Linked DNA regions of Homo sapiens: region 1 is linked to region 2. Evidence: fine-mapped expression QTL. A gene starts in region 2. The other region holds a variant in brackets. All regions are shown on one strand. Distances are between the middles of the regions.

Evidence for each region. PIP is the estimated chance that this variant, and not a neighbour inherited with it, causes the effect. A credible set is the group of variants that fine-mapping cannot tell apart.
Region 1: its variant is the best candidate, but not a certain one, in a credible set for the expression of SPART in neutrophils (CEDAR, PIP 0.59).

The regions. Positions count from the first base shown.
Region 1 is chr13:36,217,770-36,220,684 of GRCh38, reverse strand. The region is part of intron 6 of CCDC169-SOHLH2 (CCDC169-SOHLH2 readthrough); the gene reads left to right. Among named protein-coding and RNA genes, the nearest start is that of SOHLH2, 4.7 kb to the right of the region's middle. The variant T/CTTTTTTT (reference allele first, on the strand shown) is at 1,570.
Region 2 is chr13:36,344,945-36,347,859 of GRCh38, reverse strand. It overlaps SPART (spartin), which reads left to right and starts at 1,466. Exons shown (of 9, transcript NM_015087.5): 1 at 1,466-1,635. SPART-AS1 (SPART antisense RNA 1) reads right to left here and starts at 1,429. Exons shown (of 5, transcript NR_045181.1): 1 at 1,353-1,429. RefSeq lists a silencer at 1,568-1,617.

The sequences.
Region 1 (2,915 bases), 130 kb after region 2:
CCTTTCTTGGGCTCTGACTCTGCTCTTGGGAGGAATGTTCTTGTCCATTTTTTCTTAGTAGCCACTGGCTCCAGTCCGTGGGAGTTTCTTCCTTTTTCATCTTCTTGCCCACATTCGAAGTGGATGATGAGGTTATGCCCTCTATTGGGGATGCATAGCTTTCAGAGCTCATAATCTGTTTGAACAAAATTGGGTGTCTAAAGCTGATTTTACAGTTCAAAGGCTTTTTAGTCCTAGTTTATATAAATTCCATCAAAATAGTAGCCAGTTCTATGTATAATATAATTTCAGAGCATGATTTGTTTCTTTGGCCCATACCTCTCTCTGCCTAATGGCAGCTACCATGCAGGTTATTTAACTAATTGATTAAGGTGATGTGAAGTTAACACCTATCCATAATCTGATCCTTGCCACAAGGCTGAGTATTAGTGGCCTTTTGTGGCTTGACTTTTCTCAGCCTTATCTCTTTCTTTTTGGGACCTAGAAATAGTTGGCCTTTCCAACTCTTTAATGCCCTTCAATGCCCCAAATTTCTAGATTCTTTCCTAGACTCTCTCTATTCCCTTTTATTTCTCCTTACAAACTAGTTAGCTATATTGCAAGCTCATCAATTTATTCTCTCTTACCAAAGGCAGCCAGTAACATTTAGTACACATTTAGTAGTCCATTCTCATGCTGCTAATAAAGACATACCTGAGACTGGGTAATTTATAAAGGAAAGAGGTTTAATTGACTCACAGTTCCAGCATGGCTGGGGAGGCCTCTGAAAACTTAAAATCATGGCAGAAGGGGAAGCAAACACGTCCTTCTTCACATGGCAGCAAGAAAGAAAAGTGCCAAGCAAAAGTGGGAAAAGCCCCTTATATAACTGTCAGTTCTTATGAGAACTCACTCACTCTTATCATGAGAACAGCAGCATGGGGGTAACCTCCAATATGATTCATTTACTCCCCACTAGGTCCCTCCCAGACATGTGGGGATTATGGGAACTACAATTCAAGATGAGATTTGGGTAGGGACATAGCCAAACCATATCAACACATTATTATTCGTTGTTTTCCCAACATCCTTCCTTTGACCTACAGTCTTAGTAAGCACTTGGTCTGCTATGGCATAACAGGGATCCCAGGCTTCCAACCTCCCATATTTCTTTCTGTGCCTCTCACTGCAGACCTGCTAAGTTAATGCCACACATATTAGTATTTTGTTTAGGCAGCACCTAAATTCAAGTTATTAATCTCTCTATTATGACTATAAAAAATAACTCAGACTTTAGAGGCTTAACACAAAGATTTCTTTCTCTCACACATCACAATCCATTCTGGCTTCAGCAGTGAAAAGAAGTAAAACTAAATAAATAACAAAATAGTATTTATATCTGGGGAGACAGGGAAATGTGAATGAGAGACACACATAAGGTATTTTAAAATTATTGATAGTGTCTGTTAGGCTGAGTGGTAGGTACATACACATCCATATTATTATACTTTAAATAATACATATGTAATAAATATACTCGGGTATGTATGAAATTTTCAAAATAAAAAAATTAAAATTACTTCAGATAAC[T/CTTTTTTT]TTTTTTTTTTTTTTTGAGACAAGGTCTTGCTCTGTTTCCCAGGATTGAGTGCAGTTGCATGATCATAGCTCACTGCAGCCTCAAATTCCTGGGCTCAGCCTCTCAGGTGTGTGCCACCACACCTAATTTTTTTTTTTTAAAATTTTTGGTAGAAATGATATTTTGCCGTGTTGCCCAGGCTAGTCTTGAACTCCTGGCCTCAAGCATTCCTCCTGGCTCGGACTCCCAAAGTGTTTGGATTACAAGTGTGAGCCACCTATACCAGGCCTCTCAGCTGACTTTTAAACCATATTAGTATACATGAACATATTCACGAGTAAAGTGTGAATGACATTTTTTCCACTCCCGCTTATCCCTCACCTTTACAAACAAGAAGCTTCTCTCCTTGAAGGTGGCCTGACATTTTTGTGCTAAAGAAATTCCTCATGACTTCATACAGCTGCAGTTGGCTGTCACTGTGGCTAAAGGTAAAAGAGTTCATTTGTAACTTTGTGATCTCCTCAGACCATAGAGCTATAACCAATGACTACCATGGGGGGATGCACTCAAAATGAATCAATGTGGGATCGCACAGGCCCACTGTGGACTTTGTGTGACACAGTCCCTCCTCCATGGTTATAGTGTTACTTTGGTTTAGCTCTACATTTCCTAGCAAAGACTTGTGATTAAAATGAGGCAGATTTAGTAGAACTAAATCCGGTTTTAAAAAGTGAACATACTGAATGATGAGAAAACTGTCAAGTCTTATTGCAATCTAACGCAGGGCATCATTAGAAGTTGGCACTATTCTTTGACCTGTGTTACTACCTAAGGGCAGTGGTTCTAAACTCATTGGGAAAAACATGTATTTATTATCACCTTCTGTATGTATACTAAATACTAGGATATGAAATCTAATAAACAGTCTCCGCCTTACCATGCTGCTAAAATCAAGTCATAATTGTTGAGCAGAGGTGTGAGACAGTGTTAGTCTATTTAAAGTGCTATAACAAAATACATACTGGGTGGCTTACAAACAACAGAAATTTATTCTCACAGTTCTGGAGGCTGTGAAGTCCAAGATCAAGGCAGCAGCAGATTCAATATCTGGGGAAGGCCCACTTCCTGGTTCATAGATGGCATCTTCTCACTGTGTCCTCACGTGGTAGAAGGGGTGAGGGATCTCTCGCGGGCTTCTTTTACAAGGGCACTAATCCAGTTTATGAGGGCTCCTCCCCCATGACCTATTACCTTCCAAAGATCCCACCTCTTAATACTATTACCTGGGGGCTAGATTTCAAATATGAATTTTGGGGGGACATCAATATTAAATCTTTAGCAGATGGAATTAGTACTACTTTGAAAA
Region 2 (2,915 bases):
TTAAATTGGTATTTAGATTCCACTGGCTACATTTAAAAGTTATATAACTTTTATTTTAAAATGTTAATTTATAATAAAACAGAAGTTGCTTCTTTTGTAACTATTTAAGTCAGATGAGAAATTGTGATGGTCAATCCAAAAACGTGGAAGTGAGAATACAGTCATAGTCTTTGGGGACTCCTTTGGGGGTATAAGAGCAAAATCATTTTGAAACCACTGTATTAATATATTCCTAATAGGTTTTGCTTTTTGGGATGACTGACTGCTACCTTTCTGAGATTTGAGGGAGTCACTTAACTGGTCCTAAGGCCAGGCGCGGTGACTCACGCCTGTAATCCCAGCACTTTGGGAAACTGAGGCAGGTGGATCGCTTGAGGTCAGGAATTCGAGACCAGCCTGGCTAACTTGAGGTCAAGCTTTCAAGACCAGCTTGGCCAATATGGTGAAACCCCGTCTCTACTAAAAATACAAAAATTAGACGGGAGTGGTGGTGCACAGCTGTAATTCCAGCTTCTCTGGAGGCTGAGGCATGAGAGTCGCTTGAACCTGGGAAGCAGAGGTTGCAGTGAGCCGAGATCATGCCACTGCACTCCAGCCTGGGCAACATAGTAAGACTCTGTCTCAAAACAAAACAAAAACACAACAACAACAAAACTGGTTCTAAATGCTCCGGGCAAGTACATACTGCTTTTTCTTTTTTCTGTTTTTTTTTCCCTAAGGCAGCCCTATTGAAGAGTCTGTCATCTACAATATTTTACTAATTTAAAAACACTTGTCAAGAAGGGTAAAGTATGTTCATCTTGATTTTACTCTTTGTATCCCGGAATCAGGAACTAACAGTTTTATGATAGTGATATAGACTTTACACACACACCAAGACTTAAAACACGTGGTGCAGGCGGGCTTTTGGAAATTAACTGTGCTCTGGATACAGAAGTCACAAAGCTCAGGCTGCAGAGACATTGAGGGGATAATCAGCCTTTATTGTCTCTCGTGCACTGTGCCCAGCGCTCCCTCTAGCGGCTACAAGCGCTCACTGCCCACACTCTCTACTAGGCTCTCCGGAGGCCTCGGTTTCGCTGGAGAGAAAGAGATTGCGCAGGCGCCGAGCAGCCGACGTGGCCGCAGGGGACCGTGCCTGGGGGGGTCTGCGCGGGGCCGCTGACTCGCGAGGTTCTCTGTCGCCTGCCGCCCTCGCTCCTTTTCTCCCCTTCTAGAGTGTTACGGTGACTCTTGGGTCCGAAGGGGACGGACGTCCTCCCACGTACCATTTAGAAGGTCAGAGTGGGCAGAACCTAGTCTGAGCAGGCCGGTGATGAATCCGCTGGCAAGACGCGCGCGTGGGTACTCACGTGACCTAGGCTGCGGCGGCGGCGTGCTGCGGGCTCTGTGGCGGGAGCGAGGCCGACGGGCGGGGCCGCGCGGCCGCGTGACGCGAAGCGTTCGAGAGCGCGCGTCGTGGAACGTCTTGGTTGCCACGGCAAGCGCGCGCGCGAGGCCTTGGGAACCTCGGGACCGGCCCCCGGCGAGCGCAGCGGCGCCCAGTGTAAGGGAGTGGGAGCTGGTCCGTGCCGCGGCGGCCGCGCAGGGAGCTCTCGAGGCAACGCCGGGGCGCCCGAGGTCTGGAAGGCGCAGGTGGGGCGCGGGGGAGTTCACCCCTGCGCGGTCCCTTGGGTGGGCGGGGTGGGCGCCCCAGGCCCCGCGGACTCGGCTGGGAGGCTGAGCGGGCGACGGTCACGGGACAAGGGTGGAGGGGGTGGGGACCTCATCCGAGTCTCAGAGATGGAATTTTCGAGGAAGGGAGCGATTTCGAGAGAGAATAGTTTGAGAAGTTGTTCTCAGTCCCTTCTCTCGCGGGAGTGTGGTATTTAGGGAAGCTTCGGCCTCTTAACCCATGGACTGTTAGGATGGAGGGAATCCTTCCCGCTCGATTCCTATCGCGGAGTCCTTTCGGAGCATCGCTATTGATCATTCTCGCCGCCCCAACCCCGTTGTTTACTTTGGCTTCGCAGATCTCTGTGGTCTTTTGCCCTCCCGCAGCGCCCATGGCCCCGTCAAGGTTGGGCAGCCTTTCTCTGCAAGAAGGCCCACGAACAACTGCGGTTATATTGGGATGGATTGCGCGTGATTTTACTCTTTACAATACATTCTTTCATGCTTCCTAGGGATTGAGCTGCGCGGCGGATCCCTCCGACTTAATTCTGGGCCTGAGAAAAGTTTCTCTTGGAATGCGCAGTTTCGTGACGCAGCATTATTGCGTGACTCTAGGGCTGACCCAGTTTTTCACTTTCTAATTGTAAGGAAGTGCGCTAGTAGTCCACCGAGGATCCTCGAGGTTGGCCTTATTGTATCATAATTTAACGAATTTGCGTTCCAGGTTGTTACAGCCTTTGAAATAATGGCCTCATATTTAAGAATGTAGCAATTTTTCTTTGAAATTTCCGAAAGTGGGGAAAAAAGTAATAGAAGACTGCACCTATATGGAATTATTTTCTGATTCGCAGTTCTTTATAATCGTAGACTTAATTTGGTGGCTTTATTGGACCTGTTTGAAACAGGAAGCCTTTCTGTAATGTGGTTTCGGGTCGGCTTCACCTCTGGCACTCTCTGAAACGTCGTTGTCTATGGTTTCCCTAAGAAGCTAGAATGAGCGGGATGCTACGGAGGGAGGTGTATACAGGTGTTAGACAAAGCCCCCTCCGCTTTTTTGGTAAAGGGCCAAATAGGCATTAGATCAACTTGTGCTAGCTCTAAGGAGTTAAATGCGGTATTATTAAAGACTGCTTGTAATGTTGACTGTTAAGTGAGAGTGTTACTTCTTTCAGTGTTTATGGAATCGAACTAAATTGCTAGGTATTTTAATGCAGAATTTTACCTTTTCTCGGGTATTTTTTAAGACATACACAGACATACAT